Linked DNA regions of Homo sapiens: region 1 is linked to region 2. Evidence: fine-mapped expression QTL. A gene starts in region 2. The other region holds a variant in brackets. All regions are shown on one strand. Distances are between the middles of the regions. Region 1 overlaps SUPT3H (SPT3 homolog, SAGA and STAGA complex component). Region 2 holds the start of SUPT3H (SPT3 homolog, SAGA and STAGA complex component).

Evidence for each region.
Region 1: its variant is fine-mapped to the expression of SUPT3H in whole blood (INTERVAL, PIP 0.92).

Annotation. Positions count from the first base shown.
Region 1 is chr6:45,110,311-45,126,275 of GRCh38, forward strand. The region is part of intron 2 of SUPT3H (SPT3 homolog, SAGA and STAGA complex component); the gene reads right to left. Among named protein-coding and RNA genes, the nearest start is that of MIR586, 79 kb to the right of the region's middle. The variant A/G (reference allele first, on the strand shown) is at 8,320.
Region 2 is chr6:45,368,441-45,384,405 of GRCh38, forward strand. It overlaps SUPT3H (SPT3 homolog, SAGA and STAGA complex component), which reads right to left and starts at 9,494. Exons shown (of 11, transcript NM_003599.4): 1 at 9,328-9,494. The region is part of intron 2 of RUNX2 (RUNX family transcription factor 2); the gene reads left to right. RefSeq lists silencers at 9,136-9,415, 9,736-9,785 and an enhancer at 9,426-9,969.

The DNA of each region.
Region 1 (15,965 bases), 260 kb before region 2:
ACTTTTTATTCTGTATACTTATACTGGGATCCAGGAGGATGAATGCTGAACAAAACCATTGGATACTGTTTTAAAAAGACAGCAGAATTTATGACTAACACTTTTAACATTTTTGCGCTATGTATAGCCCAATACTATCTAAAATTAGGGGAGATCCTTCAAATAGACATCTATTAAAATATACAATAAACGTCTAGTCATTTTGCTCTCAAAAAACAACAGAACCCCTTTTCAGTGCTTTCTAACATCAGCTTTTTTTAAAAAAAAAAAAGGAGAAAGATTTCTTAAAAATGAAGGAGCTTTACTATCTTATGTTGAATCCACATGTGACATCTTTGGTTAGTAATCTATGCCAAGATGCTACCCAAATATAGCAATACTCTTTTAATCTCTCTATAAATTCTAAAGCATCATTTCATTTGCTAAAATCTTTTGCTAACCTCTGGACCCTATGTAAATGCATGTATTTGATGATGTATCAATTGACCTATTCTCCTCACATCTACATATCCCCAGCTGTGAAAGGCAGTCAACTCCAAACTCTTTTAATGGCATAAACTGTAAGGGGAAAATAAATACTTTTTGAGAAAGTATATGTAATGTGTGTACATATGTGTGTGTGTATTTCTTTTCAAGTTATACAAATTAATATAATAACAAAACAGCATAAAATAAACACAAAAGAGAAATATCAAAGGAGGTAAGAAATAAAACAAACGATACTTTTTTTTTTTTTTTTTGAGACAGAGTCTCACTCTGTCACCCAGGCTGGAGTGCAGTGGCGCGACCTTCGCTCACTGCAACCTCCACCTCCCGGCTTCAAGCAACTGTCCTGCCTCAGCCTCCTGAGTAGCTGGGATTACAGGCGCCCGCCACCATGCCCAGCTAGTTTTTGTATTTTTAGTAGAGACAGGGTTTCACCATGTTGGCCAGGCTGGTCTCGAACTCCTGACCTCGTGATCTGCCCACCTCAGCCTCCCAAAGTGCTATGATTATAGGCTTGATCCACTGCCCCCAGCCAAAATGGTATTTTTAAAAATATATTTTATTTATTGGTGTTAGAAAATCTTTTTGCATTCACTAACATATATACATTATTGTTATCAGCATGACCAATCACCCTAGTTTGCCTGGGATTGAGGGGTTTTCCAAAGTGTTCCCTACCAAGTAAATCAGTCTAATTAGTACTAGAAGGTCATGGCATACATTCCCCCCTCCCTCCCCCCCGCAAAAAAAACAAGCAAGAAAACAGTTTCATTTGTTAAGGGAATGAATTAACAATAAATAAAACTTGTATTTTTCCTTTCAAACAATTACCCTTATTATTTCAGTTCTAAAGTCTCAAAACAGAAACAAATAGCATATGGGAAATTTATTCCTTCATCTGAAGATAATGCTTTTCTATTCTCTGATGTTGAGGATGAAGTTCATGAGAGTCAGTGGATGAGTAGGTGCCCAGCTGACATCTCACTGTAGTCACGGCCCCCCCACCCCCACTCAGGGAAAGAAATAGCACCAAACTAAATGACCAGCCAGAGATTTGAGCTCAGAAAAATGGATGAAGTTCACAGGGCTTGTATCCAACTAAAAAGATTACAATAATGCTGCTAGAAGTCATACTATATTCTGGCCGTCAGCTACAAAGTAGGAAAAGTCAGTAACCATGAAAATATCCTGGAAGTTAGAGGATCTGGTTCTAGTTCCCACTATGCTATTAAGAAGTACTGCAATGAGCAGGTAACTTCTCCTGGCACCTCAGTTTCTCAGCAGTAAAAGGAGGGGACTAGATTAGATAATTTTAAAGAAACCTTTTCAGAAACTTTATTTTGAATCAAATATATCTGATTCAACTATAATTCGTAAATCTTAAAGACTGTCTTCAAGAATGGGGCAACACTGTTATGAGAAAATCAAATTGCACAGAGTAAACTGTGGGAAAATCATGAAATTAAGAAAAAGAAAAACATGTTAAAAATGAGTAACAGAACGAAATAAATAAATAAAAATAATTAGAGGAAGGAAAAGAAAGCTATAGTTTATCCCTGGCCTTATATGTGGAAATAATTTCTAAGAAACATGTCATTGTTCCTTAAATTTAAAAAAAAAGGTGGGGGGTGTTGAACATATTATCACGGAATTTTACATTATTCTTTTTCAATTAAAAGAATTTAACAGGCCTAACTTTGAGTCTAAAATACTTGTTTTTAAATTTCCAAGCCCTGATTAAGAATAGAGGGGAAGGACTGATTAAGTTTCTAACAGAGGGGAAGGACTGATTAAGTTTCTAACAGAGGAGAAGGGCTGATTTAGAGGGGAAGTGCTGATTAAGTTTCTAACAGAGGGGAAGGGCTGATTAAGTTTTAATTAAAGAGATTCTGAAAAAGAAGCAAAGGGGATAAGTTTGGTGATGATCTGTGGACAGCCTGCTGGGCCAGTCACCAAGCATACAAGGCCTACAAGCAGATCTACTCATAAAGCATCTAGAAACCAAACATAAAGAAAGGATAAAGAGATGTTTCTTTACTGCCATGTGTACATCTTCTTGGATGCTGAGTTGCTTTCAATACTTCCCACTGGCTACAGACTCTAATGTGGTTAAATCATTCTGGATACTCTGGTTAAGTAATTGCTGTGGTCTTGGGAGCTAGTCACTTTTTTTTTTTTTTTTAATTAGTTCTGGTTTTTTTGGATGTTTTCCTACCCCAGGTAATTGACATTACTTTAGAATGGACACTGTGTGACTATTGCTTGGTTTAAGAAGGCTCTGGGTAACTTGCTGTCCCCAAAAGAAAGGTTTTTTTTTTTTCCGTTCAAAGCATTTTTTGATTACACTTTTATAGACTAGGTATTACTATAATACCCAAGAATTTCTCCTAAATGGAATTAGAGTGAATACCAGGCTACAGCCCTACCATACACTTTAGTCAGCTAAACTAGTACTAGATGATGTATGTGAACACAGACATCATACTGTTGTTTATGTCATTCTTACCCAATATCTGTTGACACTGATTTGTCCACTATCCAAAGTGGGGAATAAAAGTGCAGAAGTTTGGCCGTGATCAGTCATTTAATGCAATTGGAAAGTTATAAACACTACAAATTAGCCTTGCTCTTCAAATTTTAACAGCTCTTTCACAAATCTATGATTTTACCCACCTGTTTTCAAAGGAAGAAATGAATTTTATTAACAATAGCTCTAAGAAACCCCAAGTGATAGGTAAATCAAAATATCAAATAAGGCTGGGCGTGGTGGCTCAACCCCAGCACTTTGGGAGGCCAAGGTGGGTAGATCACCTGAGGTCAGGAGTTCCAGACCAGACTGGCCAACATGGTGAAACCCCATCTCTACTAAAAATACAAAATTAGCTAGGCATGGCATGGTGGCGCATGCCTGTAACCCCAGCTACTTGGGAGGTTGAGGCAGGAGAGTCGCCTGAGCCTGGGAGGCAGAGGTTGCGGTGAGCCGAGATTGAGCCATTGCACTCCAGCCTGGGCGACAGAGCAAGACTCCATCAAAAAAAAAAAAAAAAAAAATCAAATAAACATCTAAGACAACAGATTTCCTAGCAGTGATGATTTTTCTCATTGCTTGCTTGATTTCTCAACAACCATTTCCCCATTCCCCTTCTGATAGTAAACATTCATATAATTTAACTGAACTTTGAGAAAACTTTTAGAATTTTACAAAACACCATGAAATAAATATAAATATGTGAAGATATATAAAAAGCAAAATTAAATTATTTATGATATAAAATAAATAATGCTGACGTAAAAAAATACAAATATACTAATATACATATATGTTTAAAATAAAAGATAAAACAGTATAAAATTTTGAAAAGGTAAACACATAATACCTACAAGTATTAATCACTCAATCAACAAATATTGACTGATTGCCTGGTATGTGCCAGGCACTGTTCTGGTTCCTTGGAACATATCAGTGAACAAAACAGACAAAAAAATGAGTCAAGTTTACATTCCGATGAGGAAAGGACAATAAACAATATAACTAATGAATTACTAAATAAATAATTTGTATGTTAGAAAGATGAGAGAAAAAAACTTAGAACAGAATCACGAAATGTATGCAATGGGCAGTGTGAAATATTAAAACATGTATTTATTAAGATCTGATGTGTGAAAGAAATAGCTTTAAATAGAAAAAATATATAAATCAGAAAATTTTTTTAAAAATCAAGATTTACATAAGAAAGCTCATCCATAAATATTTATAAGAAAGCTCATAAAATAAAACTCATCTACAGTGCATGAAAATGTGCATCTGAGAAAGTTTACAAAACTAGCAGAATATCTTTATGAATTTCTTCTAACAATTTACAGGGCATTTTTCCTCATATATCCTACATTTCTAAGAAGCAAATATTCCCATCTTCAAACTCTTAATAGATAGCAGCATAAAGCAAATTATTATAAACCGTCCCTATTTGAGGAACAGGAAAGATCTATATAGCAATCATTGAATGTTAGGTCAAAAAATAATCTAAAAGATTACGTAGTCCTTTCATTCAGTTTTAAACAGATGAAAAATGAAAGCCCAAGAGGTTAAATAGCCATCTCAAGGTCATAAGTCCAGTTAGAAGTAAAACTAGGACTTTTACCTCATCCAGAACTCATTGTACAACAACACGCTAAATGAACATCTATTAAGCCTCCAAAACATTTAATGGACTTTACTATCTTAGATTGACTGAAATTTAGTCAAAAAACTAACTTCCTATAACATTGAAAACAGATACACTGTAATCACAATAACACCTCATAGTCATAGAGGACTTTTCTCACCTATCATTTAAAGCAAACTGTAAAGCATGCAAACAGGAAAGTTTCTCCCATGTTACATAAACATGGAATCAGAGAGAGTCAAGAAAGTTAAGACATTTACCCGGGGAGTCAGCAACAGTAAGCGTCAAGATTACTTGGTATGAGATAGTCACAGAGATAAGAGAATTTTGTACCATCAGATCTTTAGAAAATTATCAATATAAAATGGATATAAATATGGCATACTGCAACAACATTTTTCAGATTGACAGTGTCCAGAAGAAAAAGTATTTTGTAGTTAAATGAGCTTGGAAAATGACATATTTTATTCTTTTCTAGATTTGCAATACATGTTACCATACTAAACACTCTGAGAGGTTCTGAAGAAAAGAAACTCTTGATTTTAAACGTATTTACTGTGTATATAATCCTTTTCTAAGCCCATGGAGTTACATAGCATTGAAAAAAAATTAGGAAACACTGATTTAAACAAACAAACAAAACAACTTCCAAAATAACTTAAGGACTTTAGTGAGAGGATTCCAAATAAAATGCAACCTAAGATTTTAGAACTCCAAAGCCAAGTTCTTCAGTTTCTAACAATGACATGATGATGGTGGTGATAATGGCAAACATTGTGAGCTTTTTAAAAATGCACTTACATTCAACGAATATTTATTGAATACTGGGTCTACATCATGTCAGGCACTGAATATTATACTAGCTGAGAATTTTCAAAGTTCCCACAAACTTAAAGACATGACTGATTTTCTGTAGCCATGGCAATAAACAGCCACCAGAACCAGGAACAGACTCATTCCAGTAAACACACCCTTGAGTGCCAACCAATCAACAACATTCTCATCTCTCTTATTATAGATTATGTCAACTCCAGAACACGACCAATCCCTGAACTCAATGCTTCCTGAAAACCCAAAAGATCAGCAGCCTTCCTTGCTAACAAACTGTGCTTGACCGGCATGTATCTCTCCTTTATGATAAGAAGAAATAAATCAAGTTTTCTGTTTTTATTTCAGATACTGAATGACAGGCTCGTTATTTTTCACAGCATTTAAGGAAGTTTGCCCTCACAAACTAGTCAGCCTAGCCTCCCTTCCTCTCCTTCTTCTCACATTTTATTTTGAAAGATTCCTAACCAACAGAAAAGCTGAAATAACAGTGGAATGAACACCTGTAAATCCTTCACCTAGAATCACCAATTATTAACATTTTAGCACAACTGCGCACGTTTCTCTCTCTCTCTTAAAAATTATACACACATACACTTGTATCTTTATCTGTATTAATTTTTCTTTAAACAGTAAGCATGTATTAAGTGCCAGGTATATTTATATATGTCATTTAAACCTCTTAAAGACCCTGCAACACACTATCACTATGCCTGTCCCTCTGCATCTTGGAGAGATATTTGTTCCAGTAAGTGAAATTCTGGGTTTTTAAAAATTAATTTCCATATGCTGGGATTAGCTTTGTCCCCTGGAACTGATGAAATGACAAATCCTTTTACATGACAGGTCTTCAAAAGTATGAAGAAAGCTTACTTTAAAGGTCTGGTTTTGTTTTGTTTTTGCTAAACAGCATCTGTTTTAAACAGCTTTATTGAGATATCATTTACATACCATAAAATCCAGTTGTTTAAAAGTGTACAATTCAATAACTTTTAGTAAATTTACAGGGTTTTACCATCATCACCACAATCTAGTTTCAGAACATTTCCATCATTCCAAAACAATGTCTCATGCCCATTTACAGTCAGTCCTATTTCCCATCCTCAGCCAAAGACAACCACTAATCTACTTGAAGAAACCATACATCCTCTCTAGGCTTCTTCAAGGTTAAAGACTTCCTATTTCTTATCATTTTGGTCTCAATGTAAATAGCATATCTTTGAAAAGACTTTCCAAAACTACTACCACTTTCAATTCTCACTTGAATCAGAGTAGTTTGGCATTTATTTGATTTATATATTTAGGTCCTACCCAAGTTTTCATTAAAAAAAAAGTTATAAAACTTTTAGTAAACAAACCAAAGGAATGCAAACCTCTAAGTGTTGAACAAGTCATAGGCCAATTATAAAGCCCTGTAGCAAAGAGATATCCTTGAAACAACAGATCCAATAATCAACACTTTGTGGGCTGGGAAGAGTTGATCCAGGTTTCAAGCTGTCTTTGTCTGAAATATAACTCTCCATCTCATCCAGCAGAACATCAGCACAGATGACATCAAACATCTCATTTAAATTTTTACTCTAAAACTGTGACATTACCTTAATGAAAGTAAAATTATTTTATACTGATATCAATTGTGAGCTCATGCAAGTTCCTAATAATTATAGATTCCAAAATTTTTCTTGAGATTGATGTCAAGTTCATCAGGGTATAATGACTAGAATCTCCTTCACCCAACATTTTAAAAAATGAAGCAAACTCATGCCAAAATTACAACTTTATTACACTTCCTTACAAAGCATTCTAGAAAAACCACCTGGCAATAATTAATACCACTATTGTACATAATCTAATTTGTCACCAAAAACAATGGCTTTGCTCTCAGAATATGAATAAAACTATAAATTAAAAAATATGGAAATAATGCAACTTGAAAATTAATTGTGTAAATATCTGTGACTGCCAGTAGGAGAACACATAATATATTCCAGTTGTACTACATAATATATTCCATTAGTTTCTTCACAAAGGGCTTTCGCTTGAATCAGGAAGTATATAAGACAATTGTCTTATAGTGATCAGTCACTTTTAAGAACATTAAGAAAAAGTTCATCTCTAGTCTCAACAATACTGTATTCCTCAAATAAAAATGAAATTTAGTATGCCCAGAAGAAATGTGTTTTCAGTTTGTTCTCTAGAACATGGATAAAAAAGTGATGACATGAGAAAGACATTAAGACACAACTCTACTGAGAATAAACACATAGCATACATTAAATGATCTTTTACTTTAGTATAAAGTCTATAACTTAAAAATTTGGCATGCATAAATAATAACCCTTTATAGATATTTATATACACTATTAACACTGAAACTCATATTAACCTTTAAATTTTACTATGAAAAGATCAGTATGTACTTGTAGAAGCTTACAATGAACATATAAAGTCTTTAAGTATACTGAAAATATTAGTGAAAACATACATCTCTGTATCTACCTACTACCACCCTGTACACGATTAAGATCTTCATAGGTACAAGCTCTGTGGTAGCAAATAAAAATATTAATAGGCAATACCAGGCAATTAATTATTTATAATAGTTAATATCAATAAAACAGTAATTAAGACCCTAGCTTAGAGCCTTCACAGAATCCTACAACTTTCAAACTCCTCTGTTTATTATATAAAAGTCTTTGACATCTGGCTTCTCTCTGGTTCCACCCTTATTTCTAGCCATGCACCATTTGTTCCTAAAATATCAAACTCCCTATGGACAGCTGACCACACAATAGGTTTCAGGTCTTCTCACTTTTGTACATGATATTTTCTCTGTCAA[A/G]TAAGTCTTTGTTTCTTCTTCCATTCAGCCAATGCCTTCCAAACTTAGTTCGAGGGGTACGACCCTTGGGAAATTTTCCATAATACTCATTTGCTGCTCTAAGGCATATTGCACTGATTGCCCTAACTCACCTTTCACCTCATATTATATTCATTCCCATTGCCAAGTAACTTTAAGTAGCCCTGCACTATAACCCTGAGCTCAACCCTGTTATGTTCTTTGGCCAATGGGATATTATTAGCAGCAGAGGCTAAGAAGTGCTTAAGCATTTCAACTTGCACTCTTGCACTCTGCCACTGCCATGAAAGTATGACAAGGCTAATCTGCTGGAAAATTAGAGATACATGAAGCAGAGCTCAGTCACCCCAGTTATCGTAGTTGAGTTATCATAGATCAGCTGGCAGTCAGCTGACCCTCAGATAGATAACAGAGCACAGCTGAGATTGGTGGGGTTGTCTAATCTACTGTCATAGACATATAATCATAAATGCTGAGGTTTCACAATGTTTTGTTATGCAGCATTATTGTGGCAATAAATAACAAATCCCACTCCTAGATGCTTCCATAGCACTCTTCACAACCTCCTCATAGTATAGTTACATAGTTGTATAGTTATGTAGTTACATAGTCATACTTTTACATGAACTAATTTGTCTCTATTCTCCCCTATGCATTTAGAGGAAAATAATCACCTGTTATTTAAATTTGTATTCTGAGCACCTAAGAAGATGCCAGTTGTATGTGGGCACTCAATGTATGTCTAGGGAAGAGAAGGTATGAGGACGGATTCACCTCCCAACTGATTCCACTATTATCTCAGACCACAAGGAGCCTTCCCTATGTTGTGAAAGTTCAGTGGGCACACAAACTAGATACTGTTAGAGCAGATTAAAACCTTAAGCATATAGGCTTTAATATATGCTTATTATATGTATATAGCTGCCTGTTGGATGAGCACAGATGGCCACAAATTCATGTGATTTGTGGGCATAATGTTAACAGGAAAGAGTCAATAATTGCAGCACTTTGGACCAAATAAAGAGTGGAATTAGGTTATGCAGTAAAAGATGCCAGGGCAGAGAATCAAAGGGTGTATTCCTAGAAAACTTAAGATTTTCACATGTAGAAGGAAAAATGTTTGAAATTTCATTAAACTTGGTATGCATTTGGGGCCAAGTAAAAAATATTCAAAAAGGAACCAGATTAATGATTTATTTTTTTTAAAGGCAGCAAATACTTTTAAAAAAGAAAAGGAAAAAAATGAGTCTGAAAATATATACAATTTAGAATCTGTTTAATAATGATAGTTATGACAAAATGACAATGAGTCGATTATATCCATAATACATACTGAGGATTTACTGTTTGCTAGACACCACTGAACTGATTCAAATGTCAAAATGACTCTAAAAGGTAAGTACTATTACTATTGCTACTTCAAGACTTGAAGAGGTTAACTAAATTACCCAAGTAACATAGTTAATAAGTGGCAGAAACGAGATTCCAAATCCCATCAGTCTGACTGCAAACTAAAAAAAACAAAAAACAAACAAACAAAAACCCTCTAACTGCTCTATAATATTGTCTTTCATAGAAACTGAAGAGACTTCGGAAGTAATTTATTTCAGTTTCCACCACAATAAAGAAAATTTTAAAAGTGAAAAGACTATATAGGCTAGGCATGGTGGCTTCTGTTTATAATCCCAGGATTTTGGGAGGTCGAGGAGGGAGGGTCACTTGAGCACAAGAGTTTAAATCCAGTCTGGGTAACAGTGTGAGACCTTGTCTAAAAAAAAAAAAAAAAAAAAAAAAGACTATATAAGCATATATCCAAGTTAGGGTGACTGGAGTAGGATGATGATGATACTTTGATAAAATTGGAAATAACTTTTTGACAACCAGTGTGGTACATGCAGAAATGCAAACCAATATATAAATGCCACAATAGTTGAATTCAGAAGATTAAGAGGAAAACTAAAGAAGTTGAACAACAAATGATGTCTATATCAATAACCAAAAAAAGGAATCTATTAAAAGGCTGAACAAATTCTTCCAAGTCAAAAGCAAATAACTGGCTTCCTCTATTCATGCAAATAGCTGTTTGCCACATGAAATTTATCTTGCTTTTAGGTTTCAAGAATTAAGGGTAAATATTAAAGCTACAAACCTGGGGAACTCCATAGTGTCTTTATGCATAAATCACATAGAAATTTCTCAGGTTCTGAGATAAAGTTCAGGAATAATTGTACTAAACAATGCAAAAATTTCCCAAGGCTAAAATTTGAACAATATTAGAACAATAATATTAGAACAATAATAAGTATAGGTTAACTTCATCATACTATTAATAGATTATAATACAAATATTACACAGAGATTAAAATTGATACTTTGGAACAGGTTGATTATCTAGGTATGTAATTATTATTATATTCAGAGGGAAATATTCCTTGCAGCATAAAGACACCAATACCATTCATATACTGTTTCCAGAGAGTTTGATAAACAGAAAAATTCCACAAAAATCTTGGCCCAGAAACTCTCCACAACCAGGATCTCTGATTTCCATAACCTCTAGATCCTATAGGAGTAAAAATTAGAGCTTCTCTTATGGTGAACAAATTTCCTATCTCAAAGCCCTTGGAGAACGTCCCATTTTTTTCTAGAGAGAGAATGCTTGGGCAACTCTGAGAGGAAAGAAGGAAATTGTGATGCTCTGTATGTCCTGGGGACCAGAGGTTTCCAGGATTCAAACAAATGTAAACAATTTGACTTCCTGAGTATTGACAAGGAATTAGAATATTAGATTACTAAATCTGGGTTTTCTCAGTTGCAGGAGTTTCCCTTTCCCCCACATTCCAAAGATTTCAAAACCCTATGAAATTATGTGGGGGGGGGGGTGGATTATCTAAGTATATCTTTCACAGTTGAATGACTCAAAACAATATTTAACATTTTAAATTAACCTGTTCATAATGCAGTATTCAATTCTTCACTAAACTCACATAACTCATTTCTACTTATAGATTTTTTTTGGGTTTTTTTGTTTTTGTTTTTGTTTTTGAGACGAAGATTCGCTCTTGTTGCCTAGGCTGGAGTGCGGTGGCGTGATCTTGGCTCACTGCAATCTCCGCCTCCCAGCTTCAAACAATTCTCCTGCCTCAGTCTCCTGAGTAGCTGGGATTACAGGCACCCGCCACCACGCCCAGCTAATTTTTGTGTTTTTTTAGTAGAGACGGGGTTTCACCATGTTGGCCAGGCTGGTCTCAAACTCCTGACCTCATGATCCACCCGCCTCAGCCTCCCAAAGTGCTGGGATTACAGGCGTGAGCCACCGCACCTAGCCAGATGTGTTCTTTAAAACTCTGAGTAAAGAAAGTTAAGTGAAAGATATCTTTCATTTAAAAACAAAAAAAAAAGAAAAATTAAAAATGAACAAATTGTATTTTCTACATATATTAACTTTAAAAAAGAAAATGCAAAATTAATCTATTTACCATAACTATATTTTCACACAGGTGTCACCTTTATTACGCTGTAAAATGCTAGAGCCTACAATAATCTATTCCAGATATGGGGTTGGGGTTGGGAGCAAGGGTTTGGCAAGGGAGTGGAAAAGTAACAAGGCTGTCTGTAGCACTTTTAGTACATGTTATAAGAATAATCCATAACAAAAAAATATTGATTCAATTCAGTATAACTACTTAAATTTTCTTAAAATCACACATACTTTATATAGTTAAAACCCTAATAAAACCCTAATACACTTTCTCAAAAACTTAGGAATAATTTCACAGTACCTAAGGATTAAGAAAAAAGGTTTTTAAATAAAATATTGATGTTTAAAATGTCTCTTTAAGCTATTTGCTAGCAAAACAAAACAACAGACTTTGAAAGAATACTAAACCCACCATCATTAATTTTATTTTGGTAACTAACTTTATTCCAATGACTTCATAACAAAGTTAACCTTTAAGGATAAATCACCATATACACCATTAAAACACCAAAAATAGAAGACAGAATTGCTCCTACTTCCATGACATTTTGTTTCTAATTAAAAAAAAATTTTGGGAGTATTGTTGAAGAGAATTCATATTAGAAGATATATCAAATTAAACGAGAGGCACTTCATGTCTATTTTCTAAGTTTATATCATACTGAAAACTGTGCTTGCAGACCCCATGAACAAGAATAATCATCCACAAATTGCTAGACTCTTTCATTTTGGATTGTACACTGAAAATGAAAGGTGGACATTTAGAGTCTACATGTTCTATTTTCAGCTTCATCATTAACATGTTTGAGAACCTGGGGTAAATTTCTTTACAACAGGTAAATATTCTAATACCCTATTACTTAATGGAAGCTAGGTCCAAAAGCTGACACTTAAGTGGAATACTAAATAAATATAGTCCTATTTTCTTTATTGGGTTTTCTGATTTAAAATTCTACCACATATATACATAACCATCTTAATTTACATATAAACTTAATTCACTTTAACAATATTCACTGAACATCAACCAAGATGAAAGTCCTCTCCTGAAGGCTGAGGAATGCAAATGTAAACACCAAGTCCTTGTGAACTCCAAAATTAGTACATACCACACTGGTAAATGAGATACAAATAAGCACACATGAAACTCTCTTTCAGTCAGTCTAATTTAATTAAAATTCTACTATGACAATACAAAAATCATCAATTTTTTTAAGTGTGAATTTTAAATTGTATCATTTATTTCTTTTTTTTTTTTTTCCCCAGATAGGGTCTCGCTTTGTCACCCAGACTGGAGTGCAGTGGTGTGATCATGGCTCACTGAAGCCTCCACCCTCTGGTCTCAAGTGATCCTCCCACCTAGGCCTCCCATAGTGCTGGGATTATAGCTGTGAGCCACTGCACTCAGCCACTAAATTGTACAATTTTTTTAAAGTACAATTAAAAATTTGTACTATTACAAAAAATAAAACAAAGATTATATATATATAATCTATTTTAACCTGTGTGGTGAAGTGTAACAGGTTGGGGAAAAAACTATAGGTGTAATCCAAGGGTCAGCAAATATTTTCTGGAAAAGGTCAGACAGTAAATATCTTCAACTTTGTGGGCTATAAGGTCTCTTTTGCACAATGGCCATCACAATACCAAAGTCACCAATGACAGTCCATAGATGAATGAATGTGTATAGCTATGCTGCACTAAAACTTATGAATGGTCACTGCAATCTGAATTCTGCATCTCACATAATTTCATCTCATGTAAGTGCTACATCTCATGAAATACTACTCATCTTTTGTTTTTTTCCCCAACCATTTAAAAATGTAAAAAATATTCGTGGTTACACAGGCTGCTGAACAAAAACAGGGAGCTATGTTGATTTCGCCTTCAAGCCACAGTTTGCCAATCCCTGGTATAATCAAACACCAGTATCAAATAATATGAATTAAGAGTGACTAGTAGCTGACCATAATTGCCACTGTTCAGAGAGGAGAGAAAGGAAAATATATTCAAATAATCAAGAACTTCTTTTAAAGAAGTATTTGAGTAAGAGCTTGAGTTAATGTAAGGATGATGATAACTCATTTACTGTAGCTATTATATTATTTAGTAACTGCAAGAAAACTGTTCCACTGTTAAAAAAAAACACTAATTTGTCAAAATATATGGAAAACAAGCAATCAACTTCATGTTCTTATTTAAATTGTAAAAGTACAGTTGAAAAATTGTACTGGCTGAGCACAGTGGGCTCAGGCCTGTAATCCCAGCACTTTGGGAGGCCGAGGCAGGTGAATTACTTGAGGTCAGGCGTTCAAGACCAGCCTGGCCAATATGGTGAAACCCCCCCCTCTACTAAAAATACAAAAATTAGCTGGGCATGGTGGTGCATGCCTGTAATCCCAGCTGCTTGGAAGGCTGAGGCAGGAGAATCCCTTGAACCCGGGACGCGGAGGTTGCAGCAAGCTGAGATTGCAGCACTGCACTCCAGGCTAACAGAGACTCCATCTCAAAAAAAAAAAAAGAAAGAAAAATTATACTATTTTTAAACTGTACAGCTTACCAATTTTTAAAATATTGAATATTCATGTTTAAAATAATAATAAAAAAACTGTTATAGGTTGAATTGTGTCCTTCCAAAAACAATGTATAAAAATCCTAACCCCTAGTACCTCAGAATATGACCTTATTTAGAAATAGGGTCTTTACAGAGATAATGAAGTTAAAACAAGGTCATTAGGGTAGGCTCTAGACGAATAGGACTGGTATCCTTACAAAAAGTGGAAATTTGCACAGAGACAGACACACACAGAGGGAAGGCAATATGAAGACGGAGGAAGAAGACAGTAATGTGACTGGAGTGATGAATCTAAAAGCCACGAAACACCAAGGATTGCTGGCAAACACGTAAAGCTAGGAGAGACAAGGAAGGATTCTCCTCTAGAGCCTTCAGAGAACAAGACACTTGATTGTGGATGTCTAACAACCTCAACTATGGGCAGTAAGTTTCTGTTGCTTTAAGTCACCCAGTTTTTGGTACTTTGTTATAGAAGCCCTAGGAAACAAATACACAAACTTATCAACGTATTAGGCGTGTTTTTCACTTTGTAATTCTATCACTATAGTAATCAAATAACATGTCATCATTTAATGAACAAAATTTTAAGTCCAAAATAAACCATGAATTATAATTGTCATGTTAAAATTAAATTGACTTTCTATGCATGATATGACTACCAAACATTTTTTTTCTACAATACTTTGAACCAAATTTTGTTTGGTTTTTGGGTTGTATTACTATTGATGGCAAATGCACACTACTGTGGAATGGGGAAAATTAAGTGGTAGAAATGCATGGGGTCTTAAATCTTCCTCTCATAGAGTATGGATGCAAAAGATTCTTGCATTCTAAAGTACCATTTTCAATAGTGCAACGTATCCACTTTCTTGCATCTCTTCCTGTTTTGATTTGTGATTTCAGGGATAGTTATGATGATAATATGGTACATGGGTCTCCACTTACACTCTTGCTCTGTGTCCTACAAATTTTGAGGTGGGCTTCAGCAAAACCTGGATCAGATTATGGCTTCAGTAAACTCTCATTTCTAGCAGTGATTTATTTTTCAGGTAACTGAACACAATAGTATGTGTTTGAAATACTGCATTAAAAATATAAAGAACTATTGACCTTAAACTATTACCAAAAAAAAAAAAATCTTTCTGGTTTTAAAAGACTTCCAATAAAAGAAAGTCCAAAATTGTATTACTCTTTACACTAAAAGTTTCCATTTTCAGTTATTCGTATCCCATCCATTTTTTTTCAGAAGTTTTGAAAAAGGAGATTCACATAGAATGTTGCCCAAATTTTCTGAGACCCAAACATGATCTCTTAAAATATGAACCAACAAGCTTCTGCATGTCTCTGAACTCAGATTTGTGCATTTCAATGTCACCTGGATGCCCAAATTTAAATTTCAGGGCTGCCTATCAAGCACAGTAACTGAAAACTTGCACTAAACTCAGAAGTGTGCAAAGAAGTAAATACCCATTGGAAAAAAACCTCTGATTTACAGGGTGGCCCATTTAAAACAGTTCCCATTTAATAATGTGGCTGTGTACAGGGCCTCTTTTAAATGGGCCACCCTGTATG
Region 2 (15,965 bases):
AAAAAGTTTTAATTGTAGTGAAGTTAATCACAAAAAGTGAGTTAAACAAAATGCACTGAACATGCTACTGGGTTTCTAGTTAGATCTCATATTTTGGGGGACTAAATGACCACAGAAGAAATACCATGAAACATCTTTAAGCTTAAAAGACCTCAAATTGTTGAGAACCTTATTACTAGTTTCTGCACCCTCCAAACATCATCAAAATCTGGACTGTGAAAACTATCAGTCAATCCACTAAAAGAGAGAAGTTTTAATCTTTTCTTCTATATTGCTGAAGAAAACTATTTCAGCAGACCTATGTACTGATTTTGAGCATCTACAGAGTCTCAATTCTAATGATAACCTGAACATCTCACATAATATAAATTAATAGAAAACTTTTATAATTAGAACATTTTTATTTTCATAAAATTCCAAAGGCAGGAAACAATTATGGTTAAGCCAACACTATTATGCACTGAGTTTTCGTTTTGTTGTTTAAAAAAATAATCAGGTTACATCATGATCTAAATTTCTTCTGATGTGAAAAATAATACCAAATGGTCAATCACTGAGAATGAAAAAAATTAAAAATTAAATACATAAAATATCTATAAAAACTTCTAGACCTAGTGTTTAGAATAACACAAAGGTAATCTCAATATATTAATATATGCCCCATTTTAAGTGGACTTTGGAAGGTATTAAAAAGCCTGGTTTATAAACTTATCTCAAATCAGTCACACCTGACCTCCCCAGCCTCCTTTTCTACCACAGTCAAATCAAACTTTCACTATCTCCAGAACCATTCCATGTTCTTTTGAACCTTTACCCCTACAGTTCTCTCTACTTGCAATACCTTTTGAAACAATACAGTATCTCTCAACCTACCCAAACTCTACTGACCTAAGCCCATCTCCAAGAAACCTTCCCAGATATGTAAACAAAAGAAATTCTTTCTCTGACATCTAATTATTTTAGTTTATATTAGTTTAATATTAAATTACTTTAGTGCATACTAATTATTTTTGTTGAATGAGCCTCTGTCCCACAGTGAATCCCTCCCCTAGCTATGGACAGTTGACATCATCTTCTACTTCCAGAGAAATAAAAAGCTATCATTTAGTCATTCCCTCCACTCTCCTCCACCAAAGACAGTGTATCGTATCCTCCCTTAATTCCCTCCTCTTATAATAAAGACACACTCTTATTTAAAGCCAACACCACCAGTGCTTTGGATTCTTCATATCTAAGTATTTACGGGGCACCTACTACAGGCCAAACACCGTTCTAAGAGGTAGGGATATAGTAGTGACTAAGTCAGACAAAAAGAAATACATTATAATGCAAGAGACAAGCACATAAACAAATATAATTTGAGGAAATAACAAATACTATGAAATCAAAAAAACAAGTTGATTTCAACTGGGAGGTGGCATTTAATATAAGATCTGGGAGGGAGCTCTGGAGAACTTCCCAACAGAAAGAACAGCAAAGTACCAAAATCCTGTGGCCAGTGTGGCTAGAAAGATATGAACACAGGGGTAGCAAGAGGGCAGATCTTATAAAGCCTTTAGGCCACAGGAGTTTACATTTCACTTGAGTGTAATGTGAAGCTATTAGAGAATTTTGAAAAGGGAAGTTACTTGAAATGTTTTAGGTTTAAAAAGATAACTCCAGCAGCTGGGAGAATATACTATATGGAAGCAAGAGTGCAATCAAGAAGACCAGTTAGGAAGTTATTGAGGTTGTGCAGACAAGAGATGACAGTGGGTTGAATTAGTTTAACAAGCGGAGATGATGAGAAGTGGTCAGATTTCTGGAATACATTTTGAAAGCAGAACTGATTTGCTGATGGATTACACGTGGGGTGTGAGAGAAGCGCAGTCAAGGATGACCGAATTCTGGAGCCTTAGAAACTGGTTGAATGGTGGTGCCATTTACTGAGATCCAGAAGACTGGGAAGGAAAAAAAAAACAGTTCAGTTGGGCCTATGTTAAGTTTGAGACAACTATTAGACATTCAAGTGGAGATTTTAAAAAGCTGCAGAAGCTTTGTGAGAGATGTTGTAAAGCAGAAAACTGAAATAAAAGCCATGGTCACAAGATTTTTGTTAAGGATAATTAATCAATATAATAGAACTTTGTATAAGGATATAAGGATCAACTAATCTCATAAGTTCAGTTTCTCTGTCAGGAATAATTTATCTCACAGGAATCCATATAATGGGCACTAAAAAAAATCTGAATTGAAAATATCAAAACACCCTGTAAACATGAAAACTACCCCCATCCTTTCTCTCTGGATGATAAACAGCTAAAACTGTGCAGCATTACATATCCTACCTGAGCATCTTTTTGAACAGACATAGGAGCCCAGTGATAGACTGCTCCGAGACACAGGAGTTTCTAGCATATCCTCCTTCTTTAGTCTCACATTAAGTTTCTATTCCATATGCTTTCATATCCAGTACTCTCACAGAAAAATTGAGTTTAAAAAAAAAATTTCTTTGCAAAAACAGTCCCTAAGGTGCACTGCAAATGTGCCTATCAGATTATCCTTAAGCCCTGACAAATGGCACATAGCACACTTACTTTTCCAACATTAAAACACTGTTGTTCTTACACAAACTTAATTAAAGAGTTACTTAATGGTTAACTTTTGAGATATGTGGAAGATTTTGGCAGCAATTATACTCCTAACAGTAAGAGGTAAGTGTATTTGACAAACATGTCAAAAAAATAAGCAGCTCCCTTAAAAATCAAAACTCTCTTCCAGTCTAGAGTCACATTTCAGAAATATTAAAGCTTATGAGAATTCTGCATTAAACATAAACAATTTACAAAATATCTGATGTGTTTAAAAACAGTTTATGTGACCAAAAAGAAAAAGGACTGGGGGATTTACTGTAGGCATGTAAAAAATAGAGGAATTTGGAGTTTATAAAGGGTACTTCACCAGTATTAGCTCACTTTTTTTTTTTTTTTTCACAATTACCCTACAAGACAAGTATTCTCCCTCTACCAATGAGGAAACTAAGACTGGCTGAAGGTCACAAATCCAATAAACAACAGGCTTTGATCCCAGATAGCAGATAACCTGAAATATTCAGGCCATTTAGATATACTATGTTTTAATAACAATCCTCTCATTTTAGTGCTTTAGTTTTTTCATTAGTAAAAGATCTCTATCTCCTAAAACACTAAAATATTGTGAAATTAACTGAAAAGTTGTAAACATAGCAGTCAGGGGACTTACATGGTCATTAAGTTATCTTGGAGACTGATGACTTTAAACACTCAGTTAAGAAATTCTTTGTTTAAAAGAAAATCTTAGGTAGATGGATAAGCAACTATAACAGACAAACATATATGCAAATTGGTGGGAGGGAACCAAAGACATCTGAGCAGACTTCAGAACTACAGTTTGAAAATCACTAATTTCCTCCAAATCCCTCATTTTTCAGGTGAGGAACTGAAGTCCAGAGGGGTTTCTTGAACTGCCCAAGGACACACTACTATTTAGTGATACAAGCTGGGACTAAAACTGAGGTCCCCCGACACCTGGTCCAGAGTTCTTTCTACTATACATCAAAGAATATACAAATAAAAGTTTATCATAACTAACCCAAAAGGCCTCCACAATGTGTATGTCACAGTGAACTGTGTTGTGAAATATTAATATCTGACTATGCCAAACCACAATGGAAGCAGTAAAGAGCTAGGCTCTGGAGTTAAATTATAGGCTCTAACACTTACACATGACCTTGGGCAAGTTATGCCACCTCACTGCCTCAGTTCCCTCATCTCTAAAATGGAGATTAAAATTACTTCTCTTATAGGTTACATAAAATAACATACGTAAAGCCCTTAGTAAACCGCCTTGTACATATAAGGCATTTAGTTCATGCTGATGATGATGATTAACTCATGCAAAAGCATAGCTTCTTGAAAATATATCACAAAAGATTACTGTTAAACATGTATATTCTCAAAGAATGTTATGACTAAGAGTAGACCTTTAAAGACTAATATGAATAAAGTGAAATATACAGAATTCAGTCATAAAACCACTATAGCATTTAAATCAGCAAAAGTACATTTCAAGATTTTTTAATGATTTATATTTGTATGTTATTTTAGTTTATAAAGTATATTCACATAAATTGTTTCAATTTACTGTCCTGTGAATTCAACAGCATCTTTTCAGTAACTCCTACATACCATACACCAAACAGAGTACTATTTTCTTTTTGAGACAGGGTCTCTCTCTGTTGCTCAGGATGGAGTACAGTGGCACAATCTCAGCTCAGTGCAATCTCCACCTCCTGGGCTCAAGCAATCCTCCCACCTCAGCCTCCCAAGCAGTTGGTACTACAGGCACAAACCACCAAGCTCAGCTACATTTTTTTTTGAGATGGAGTTTTGCTCTGTCACCCAGGCTGTAGTGTAATGGCACAATCTTGGCTCACTGCAACCTCCGCCTCCAGGGTTCAAGCGATTCTGATGTCTCAGCCTCCCAAGTAGCAGGTGCACGCCAAGACACGCGGCTAATTTTTGTATTTTTAGTAGACAGAGTTTCACCATGTTGGCCAGGCTGGTCTCAAACTCCTGACCTCAGGCGATCCACCTGCCTCGGCCTCCCAAAGTGCTGGGATTACAGTTGTGAGTCACCGCACCCGGCCCAGCTAATTTTTGTTTTAAATTTTTTCTAGAGACCAGGTCTCACTATATTGCCCATCACTCTTAGGCTCAAGCAACCCGGGCCTGTCTTGGCCTCCCAAAGTGCTGGTATTACAGGCATGAAGTCACAGAGCCGGCCACGATTTTCATGTTCATTATCTTATTTAACCTTCACTACCCATTAACTATGGGCCAGGTATTTTCAGAGGGAGAACTACAGTACAAAAAAGCCTCACAGACCAATTCTAGAAAGTAAGAGCCTCATTAGTATAACCTATTAGGTGGGAATATGTTTGGATAAATGAGATACAACGGAAGGAACACATCAAGTGCCCAAGAAAATGTTGGTTCTCCCTTAGCAGTAGTATGGGGTTGTTTTCCGTAGAAAATATATTGTGACCAGATCAAAAAAGCACCATTACTGTGACTTAAAATATTATTTGTGTGTGTGTGTGTGTGGTTTTTGAGACAGAGTATTGCTCTGTCGCCCAGGCTGGAGTGCAGTGCACGATCTCGGCTCACTGCAACCTCCGCCTCCCGGGTTCAAGCGATTCTCCTGCCTCAGCCTCCTGAGTACCTGGGACTACAGGCATGCACCACCATGCCCGGCTAATTTTTTTGTAATTTTAGTAGAGACGGGGTTTCGCCATGTTGGCCAGTCTGGTCTCCAACTCCTGACATCAAGTGATCCACCCATCTCAGCCTCCCAAAGTGCTGGGATTACAGGTGTGAGCCACCACACCCAGCCTGTGACTTACAATATTATTTGTAAAAGAGAACTGTCTTCAGTAATAGTGCCTATTATACACTATCCATGCTGTTACACAAAATTTACACAACAATTTTTGCAGGTCACTCTTTAGTGGAGGCTGAAGGTAGACAAGATGAGACAAAACCAATTCAATATAAAAATGTTTGTAAAGTAAGACGATAATTTTTAAATGTAATTCTCATTTGATGCCACCAACAGTCCTATGAGAAAGCGGGATGAGGATGGGTACTAATTCCATTTTACTGATAAGGAAATTGAGGCTCTGATATTAATAAGTTAAATACCTTAACTGAAATGACAAAAGAATGTGCCAGAAAAGGGCAAAAGCTAGGTTTACAGAATTGGGTCTTAGTGCTCTGTTCACCAACCCACATAACATCTCAGAACATTATTATCACTTCTAGATTATCCAATAAACTTAAGGCTACAGCAGCTAACAGTTACTGAACTGCACACAACCCATCACATGAGTTATTTAAATTAACCTCTTATGAACCTAGAAGCAGATGCCATTACCATCTTCATTTTATAAATGAGGAACCCAGTATTCTTAGGAAGATTAAATAATTTGTCCCAAATCACATGGTTAGGAAGCAGCAGAGCGAGAACTCAAATCAAGTGTTAGAGCCTCAATAAAATATTTTACCCACTTCAGTATAAACTTAATATAATAATGCATATGGCTGAATTATTTTTCATTAAGTAAACTGTAAGCAAAACCCTTCTTTAACATTCTAATACATAATCAGATTTCTGACGGATTTCACTATTCAACCTCACCATAAAATAAAATCAGTGTTATTTCAACACAAATACTCAATCACCTGATTTGACTGACATAGACTACCATGCAGTCACCCCCACCAAAAGATGATTTTCTTCCAGAGGGAACCAAAACTCAAGCTGCTAAAGGTTTATATTCAAAGCAAAATTTTAAAATTATCAGTGGCTTAAATGGGAAAGTCACTTGCTGGCCTTATTCCAGGTATCTTATTTATTATTTAGACACAAAAACAGTAATTTTGTCACTGTTTTAAAGTATATTTCTGGCCGGGCACGGTGGCTCACACCTGTAATCCCAGAACTTTGGGAGGCTGAGGCGGGTGGAGCACTTGAGATCAAGAGTTCAAAACCAGCCTGGCCAACATAGTGAAACTCTGTCTCTACAAAAAATACAAAAATTAGCCAGGCATGCTGGCATGTGCCTGTAATCCCAGCTACTCGGGAGGCTGAGGCAGGAGAATCGCTTGAACCCAGGAGGGGGAGGTTGCAGTGAGCTGAGATCGCACCATTGTACTCCAATCTGGGCAACAAGAGTGAAACTCCATCTCAAAAATAATAAAGTATTTCTGATATTGCAATGTGGTTAATCATCCTAAAACTATATATTACAAGTCCCAACAAGGCTAACAGTAGGGTGACATTATGATGTGGTCCCAATTCGAACATTTTGATAGTGAAAGGGGTTCTATTAAATAAAATAATTGTGCTGGAACAATCAGGCTTTATACTACGACTGTCTCAGAAAAATTAAGATACTATAGTCACCCATAAAAGCACCCCATTCTGATTTGTATATTATGAGCTATTCTCTCCATCTGATTTAACTCGTGAGCTTTAAGTTATTGCTCCAGATCTAACAATTATCTTCAGCCTTAAGACCAAGAGCATCATTTTTTTTTTTAAAGAGACAAGGTCTCCCTCTGCAGCCCAGGCTGGAAGCCTGGCCTGACCATGATTCACTGCAGCCTTGAACTCCTAGGTTCAAGAGATCCTCTGGCCTCAGCCTCCCAAAGTGCTGGGATTACAAGCATGAGCCAACGTGCCTGGCCCAAGGGCACCATTTTACAGACATCAGGCCAAGGTTAAGGGTGCTACCGCTACCTATAAAGGTTTTTTATTTGTTCTTTTAGTTTTATTTTCAAATTTGACTTTATATACACTTGCTTTAAAAAAAAAAAACAGATGCACATATTTCAAGTAAAGTAATTTTGTGAAACATCTATTACCTAATTTCACTTATCTCTCCAAAAGATTTGGATAACCATAAAACTAGTTCTAAAATGTCCTAATGCTCAAGAGTTACAATTTTTCAAATCGCTTTATTACACAAAAGGTTAAAAAAGAAAAAAACTTGAATAAGAGCTGGAAACTTCTCACTGAAAAACCAACCAAAGTGGTAAAAGATAGCAGAAACCGACAATCACAAAATAGTACAATAATGTTTAAAGAAAACTCCAGTTAATACTGTCATAGCTCTCTGAATCTGGCATTAGCTGTACAACCTAGGAGACAACGTTTTGCTTTAATTTGTCAAGATGTAAATAAGTACTAACAGACCCATGGTCTGAACTGCAGTATTTGAATGAAAGGCATTATTTGAATATAATTACAATTCCCTATGGCAATAAATGTTCCAAAGAGCTGGCTTATCTGATTTAAAACTCAACCATATCAAGACTCGGAAGGACTCTCAAAATCTAAATTGTAGCCCTGTGCTGTCCAATGCAGTAGCTACCACTAGCCACATGTGGGTATTTAAACGTAAATCAATTTATTAATTTATGAATAAAATTAAAAATTAAGTTCCTCAGTGACACTTATCACATTTCAAGTGCTGAAGAGCCACTGTGCCTAGGCTACCACTAGTGCCTAAAGGCACAGATTATGGAACATCTCCATCAAGGCAGAAACTGCTAGTGAAAAGTGCAGCCCTAGACTTAGGCATACTTCGCTCCAACGTCCCGAATATCCTGAGATAAGAAACTTTCCATAGCACAATGAAGAGCATTCCATTCTTGCAAAGTACTCTCACGAACTGTTTCTCATAGGCAAATTCAGCCTCTTTGAAACATTCACCAGAAATTCCCCAAGTTTTGTCCTTCAAGTAAATCTTTGCAGGGCGAATTTAATTCCTCTTCCAGAGTCTGCCCTTCACATATACTAAGACCCCAGGTCCTCTCCTTCCAAATACATACATACATATATACACATACATATACTTATATACACACATATGTATATACATATATATACACACACATTTCTTTCTACCGAAATAACTTAACATTTCTATTAGCCTCTTGGAGAAATGCTAATTTATCCACGTGTACAGTAATACTACGTCCAGGATCGTCTGAGTGTCAAATATTACATATCACTGTCTTCATAACTTCACTCTCACGTGTGAGACCAAGTGTCCTGATTCTCTGAGAAAATAAGGTCACAGTCATTCTGAACTCCTAAAACGTGGAGAGCAAAAGCAGAGCTAATATGTACTGAGCAGCACCTGGCGCTGTTCTAAGCGTTTAACGTGTATTTTCTCATATAATCCTCACAATTCTGAAATAGGCTATAAGATCGCCATTTTACAGACCAAAACAAGGCAAAGACAAGCTAAATAATTTCCCCAGGGGTCACAGACGTGAGCTCACCCCACAGAGAACACAGCGGATCTTTTCCTCTTTCTGGATGCTACACTCCCACTAACTACCTAACTCTTCTCTCGCCGTGCCATAAAGCAACAATTTCCCTCTTTAATGATTCCTCCGGCAGCCCCCACACTACCTAGACGACCCGCGCACCCCGCTTCTCAGCACAGCCCAGCCCCCCTCACCCCACGCCCACCCGCCAAAAGGGAGGAGTCGAGAGGCAACTCCACGCTCGGCAGCGGAACCAGGGCGCTGCGCCCGGCCAGCGCCTCCCACAGCCGCCCTCCCTTCAACACTCCGGCGTAGACCACGAAGACCCAGGCAGCCGCCCTCGAGCCGGGGCCAGGGCGTGGCCGGCGCGGGGGCCCAGCGACGCTGGGATCTCCGCTCTGCGTCCCTCCCGGCTCTCTGACGTCTCCCCCGCCCGAATCCCCGCACCGCCCCCCGCAAGCCCTACAACCTCTGCTTTAAGAACCCTTGGAGGCACTGCTGCGCTTCCCGCGAGGAGAATGTGGGGGTGGAGATGGTGCGGTTTCTGCTGCTGCGGCCCGGGACACGCTTGGAAAGGGGCGGGGTGGGGGACTGAGAGTGTGGAGTGTAGAAAGGGAAAAGGTGACTCGGCTGTGTGACGGGGCGATGGGGGGGGTACAAGATGGCGTGAGCCCGACTCTCGGTGGGGCGGGGGTTGCGGAGACTGAGGAGTAAGCGATACGGACGCCCCCCGCACTGGCAGTGCGGGCGCATGCGCGCTTGGCCAGGTGGCGCGCGCTCTCCCAGCCCGAGCGAGCTACTTCCGCCACGCTCGCCGGGGGCGGGGCGTTGTGCGCGGCCTTCAGGGCCCGGCTTGGGCAGCGCTGAGCCACGCGGCGGCGTTTAGAGCTGGGGACGCTGGGAGCGGAGTGGGGACGAGCTGAGATCGGTCAGGGTGTACAGGGTGCAGGCTTGAATTCTTTAGGAATTGGGCCCGAGAGGGCTAGGATTTTTGAAGGATTGGGTGACCGGCACTGGAAGTTGATTTTCAACTCCGAGGAAGAGATTCACCGTTCTAAGCTTCTTTCCAGGAATTGGAGTGAACGGGATCTTAATGGGATTGCGCGTTTACAATGGTGAAGGGAAACGGAGGGGTCTGAACGCTCCCCGCAGGGCCGCAGTACAGGCGTGTGGATGTGGAACCCTTTCTGGGACGGCGAAACCAGCTCTTACGCCGCTTCCGCGCGCCATCACTCCCTACCCTGACCTCGCACAGAATCTGTTTCATTAATCTGCTATTAATGTTTTTTCCCCAACTCATGTTACTAGACGCAGGCGTTTAACTACCATGTTTTGTTATTGAAAACTTTTTCTACTTGAAGGCTTTTTTTTTTTTTTGGACGATTCTGTGTTTAGATTTTGGCCTGTTCCTCATTTTAAAATCTTGCACCCCCAGTATTGTACTGTACATTCTGTCCTGCCACATTTAATTGATATAGATGTAGTTCTTTAAATAATACAGTAGTCGTAAGACAATGCTTTCAGTCTTTCACTCTTTATATTATATGAAGTCTTATTTATATTTAACATTCTTATTGCCTGCTTAGAGAAGAAAACTGGTTATCCATGCTCACCTTCACACCTGTGTTGTCAAATACTATAAAATACTGTATTTTATAGGGATTCAAGTATTAACCCTCACCAAGTCTTTTTAAGCATCACTGCTTCAGTTATTTTCTTGCCTATAGATACTGTGAGTTCTGAAATCCCTTCCTTCTATTTGCTTAAATTGTTTAAAATAGCAACTTATTTGGTTATTTCCTCTGTGGATTGTAGTTGAGTCTGCTAGTGTTGTGTTTGATTCTCTTTAATCTCCCCAACGCTTCAATATTTGCCAAATACCTAAAATTCCAAAAGAATAGATATATTTAGGATGTGAGAGCTCAGCTTGATGTGTAAATCAGGGATCAATTCATTGCTGAGCAAAGTGTGCAGTATAAGGGAAAGTAACAGAGTGAGTATGGTGATAACTTCTTACATGGGAAGACTGGTTGAAAGCTCTTTTGAGTACATTACCAAGAAATTAGTTAACAGAAGATTAAGAGAAAAATTAATGTTCACATCTAAAGAAACATAAAAGTAGATCATTTCAATTAAAATTATGTTCAGTTAATGTTATCATAGAAGTTCCTGCACTGGAGTTTCACCTGCATCAGATGAGTACCTGTTTGATCCAGTTTATCAGGATAGAATCCAGATCATCTTATTCTAGGATACTGGTGTCCAGCCTGCATAAAATCACACACAGGCCAGGCGCGGTGGCTCACGCCTGTAATCCCAGCACTTTGGGAGGCCGAGACGGGCAGATCACAAGGTCAGGAGATCGAAACCATCCTGGCCAACATGATGAAACCCCGTCTCTACTAAAAATACAAAAAAGTATCCGGGCGTGGTGGCACGTGCCTGTAGTCCCAGCTACTCGGGAGGCTGAGGCAGGAGAATCGCTTGAACCTGGGAGGCGGAGGTTGCAGGGAGCCGAGATCACGCCGCTGCTCTCCAGCCTGGCAACAGAACTAGACTCCGTCAAAAAAAGAAAAAAAAAAATCACGCACAACAAAAGTTAATGAGAGTGACACATGGAGAAGGGAAACTGAGTTAAGGCATTGATACAGGAAGTTTAAAAATTTATTCTTAGGAAACTGAATTGGGCTGTTGGCAGAGATCTGATTTTTAAAGTCACATGAGTTAACCAGGTTCCTACCTCCTGGAATTTCTTAAAATCCATTTTTGAAAATCTGATTTAGCCATAATTTTGCTCATAGTTTGAGACCATTGCTATATACAAAGGGCCAAAAATATTTTTGCATTACATTCATATCAAATATCCTAAACTATCAATGGTACTAGGGTATCTTAATTATAACAAAGCTAAAACAGCGAAGCTGTTGCTGAAGTTAAGGCTTTGATGACTACCACCTCTCAGAAAAACAAGTGATTTTCCAAGGCATGTGGGGAAAACACATCAGGAGACCAAGTTAATTTATCACTCCACAAAAATGTCTCCATGACCTGGACAAAATTGTTAAAGAAAAATGAAGCATTGTTAGCGTAGACTTTAACGTTCCTCTGGCATGTAATATTCACGTAGACTCACTAGTGCAAAGAGAAAGTGCATGTATCTAAGTAAAAGTGCCCATGGGCATCTTAAAATGATTAGGTAGTAAGCCCACATTCTCAAAAGAGCAGCAGAAGTCATGGCTAATATGGAACCATCTCTCTGATTCCATGGAAGTGGTTTCTTTTTATTATTATTTTTTGAGACAGAGTCTCGCTCTGTCACCCAGGCTGGAGTGCAGTGGCCCGATCTCGGCTCACTGCAACTTCCTCTTCCCCAATTCAAGCGATTCTTCTGCCTCAGCCTCCTGAGTAGCTGGGATTACAGGCGTGTGCCACCACGCCCGGGTAATTTTTGTATTTTTAATAGAGACGGGGTTTCACCATGTTGGTCAGGCTGGTCTCAAACTCCTGACCTTGTGATCTGCCTGCCTCGGCCTCCCAAAGTGCTGGGATTACAGGTGTCAGCCACCGCACCCGGCCAGAAGTGGTTTCTTCTCATGTGGATGCTACAGTGACAGTTCAGGTGACTTGGAAATTCTTTGTTGTTTGAGATTCATAACTCTTACTTGCTAGGATGTTTGTGGGGACTTTTTATTTTCTATTTATCAATTATTTCATCCTTTGCTATATTTGCCTTCTATTTTTAATGCTTAAGTTGTCACCATGGAAATAAACTGGGTAGATTGCATATTGTTTAGAACCGTATATTGCAATTGTTGCTATATTTGTTTTCTGACGTTGAGAACTGTTTTCCAATTGCATTCTCAAAAGTATCTTGTTTTATGTTTAGAGCAAGTTGTTCTGACCAAAAAGATTACTCAGCCCGGTAGTACCTGAGCAAGTCACTTAACATCATTGCACCCCAGTTTTTGTATCTGTGGAATGAGATGATAGAACCAAATGAACTAAAACCTTACAGCCCTAAAATTCTATGTTCCTTCAAAATGGGAATAGCCAAAGGATGGATACTAAAGTTGTGCAGAATAATTTCAGCATTTGTGCTACAAAAATTACAAAAGTATTCAGGGCTTTTCTTTTTTTTTTCTTTTGAGACAGGGTTTCCCTCTCTGTTGCCCAGGCTGGAGTGAAGTCATGCAGTCATAGCTTACTGTAGCATCAACCTTCTGGGCTCAAGCAATCCTTCCACCTCAGCCTCCTCAGTAGCTGGGACTACAGGCATGTGCCACTACACTCAGCTAATTTTTAAATTTTGTGTATAGATGGGGATCTCCCTAGGTTGCCCAGGCTGGTCTCAAACTCCTAGGCTTAAGAGATCCTCCTGCCTCAGCCTCCCAAAGTGCTGGGATTACAGGAGTGAGCTGCCATGCCCTGCCTGATGTTACACATTTCAAAAGAAAAACCAGCGTGAAAAGATGTATCAAATATGCTGATGCACTGCAGGGGGTTGGGGTGCCACAAAATTATTAAGGTGTAATCAAATTGGCTTCCCCTACCTTCCAATTGCATTCATAAGGAAAAGCAGTACAATGATTAGAAAAGAAATGTTAAAAAATTTTACAGTACCAGGTAGCTTGTAGAATTGTAATCATGATCATCCTCTTAGGGACCTATCATTGTAGATTTCACAGTCCAGTGTCTTTTAAAAGTAGTGCTTGGCTGCTGAAAAAATGATTATGTTTTTGAGAGTCAGAATGGTAAGGGAACCATGGAATACCAGAGTTTCAAAGAGCCTTTGAGCTCTTCAGGCACATGAAAACTTAGTTGTTCCCGTTCCCATGGAATCCAATATGTAAAACTCTTGTACTGGAATCAAACAACTTCTACATTTCAACGGATTGTTGTAGGCCTACCATGTACCTGACACTATTCTCGAAGCTGCAGATAGAGCAGTGAACAAAACAGACAAAAACATATGCCATCATCAAACTCACATGCAGAAGTTAGACAATAAAAATAAATGCCTAAAATAAATACCTAAATTATATAGTATGTTAGAAGGTCATGAGTGTTATCAAAAAAGTTTATACAGGAAGGGATGTGGAAGGAGACCAAGCACAGGAGAAATGGGGAAGATGTCATTTTTAAATTGGGCAGTTGAAGCAGGCCTCACTGAGAAAGTAGTATTTGAAGAATGACTTGAAAGTGAAGGAGATACCTGCACATATCTGAAGAAAGAGCATTCCAGACTATGAGAACAACTTGTGCAAACCGTAGGGTGGGGACAGGTCTGGTAAGTTGAAGCAACTGCCAGGAGGCCACTGTAGCTAAAGAAGAGTAACCCAGAAAGAAAATCATGTGATATGAGGTCAGAGAAGCACTAGGCCAGATGGTGAAAGGCCTTGTGTGCCTGACACTGAGAGGCTATTGGCAGAAGATTGACATCGTAAGATTTAGGCTTTAAATTGGTTACCTTGGCTGCCAGGTTGAAAATAGTCTGTAGAGTGACAGGTCCTATTGCAGTAACCCAGGCAAAAGATGATGGTAGCTTGTACTAGGGTTGTTACAGTAGAGGGCTTAAGACATGGTTGGGTTCTGGGTATATTTTGAAAACCAATATGATTTGTTGACACATTGGATTTAGGGTTCTAGAGAAAGAGAGGAATGAAGGATGAACAATTTTGTTCAGAGCAACTGGAAAAATTGATTTGCCTACATTAGCTGAGATGGGGAAGATTGGGGTTGGAGTATGCTGGGCAGGTGCAAGAGATCAGGAATGCAGTTTGGGGAATAAGTACATAATTAAGCATGATGTTTGTATTATCTTTAATGTTTTGCCATCAAAAATAAATAAGTTCTGGGCCGGGCACGGTGACTCAAACCTATAATTCCAGCACTTTGGGAGGCCAAGGCAGGTGGATCATTTGAGGCCGGTTCAAGACCAGCCTGGCCAACATAACGAAACCTCATCTCTACAAAAAAAACACACAAAAAATTAGCCAGGTGGGGTGGCACATGACTGTAATCCCAGCTACTTGAGAGGCTGAGGCAGGAGAATCGCTTGGACCCAGGAGGCAGAGGTTGCAGTGAGCCAAGATAGCGCCACCGCACTCCAGCCTGGACAACAAAGCAAGACCCTGTCTCAGTAAATAAATAAATAAGTTCTTAAGGAAATGAGAACTTTGAATTTGTAACATTCTATAATAATTAAATTAATTTCTAATCTTGCTCATGTAATAAAGTTCCATTTAGACCTATCTAATATATGTCAAGGAATACCTTTAAGAAAGTTTGAGAAAAGCTAAACATCCCCTTGTTTAAAAAAAAAGAAAAAGAAAAATATTTTTTGGTCTATTAATCCATGAAAGTAGAGAATAAAGTTAAGACGAGTATACAGAAACATCCAGTTCTCCAAAGTATTTTCATTGAAACTGAATCTATTTCAGTAAATTATTCAAATAACTGCCTTCTTTTTCTATTACATGTGGAAACAGGACCAAAAGTTATTTGGTGTCATATAAAATAAACTACAGTGTGGCTAAGGCAACCTGTTATTCCTACTTCACATTCTGAAGGTGGATGCAACAAACCTATTTTGACTAAGTAATGCTCAGATCATTTGTTAATAGTAATCAGGGAACTGTACCAACAGGTTTCACCAGGTTACTTTGTTTTTATTTTTAGCTTTTTACAGATGCAGCATAAGCTGTATTTTCCTCTTTCCAGAATATGTTTAAAACCATTTCTTTAACTCAGTCAGGTATAGTGTAAAAAATAAAGGCTTTGGTGTCACTTTAGCCATAATGCTGGGCAAGTTATTCAACTGAAAATAAGTGTCCTCCACTGTAAAATAAGGATAGGAATACTTAATGTAGGAAGGTTGATATCAGATTTAAATGGGAAGTTCCTGACACATTGAAAATATTTAATAATTTGTAGTTATTATTGTTTTCCAGGGGTGGGGGGAGTGGTTGGGGTTTTTTTTGTTTGTTTGTTTGTTTCTTTGTTTTTTAGACAGAGTTTCACTCCATTGCCTGGGCTGAGTGCAGTGGCATGATCTCAGCTCACTGCAACCTCTACCTCCGGTGTTCAAGCTATTCTTATGTCTCAGCC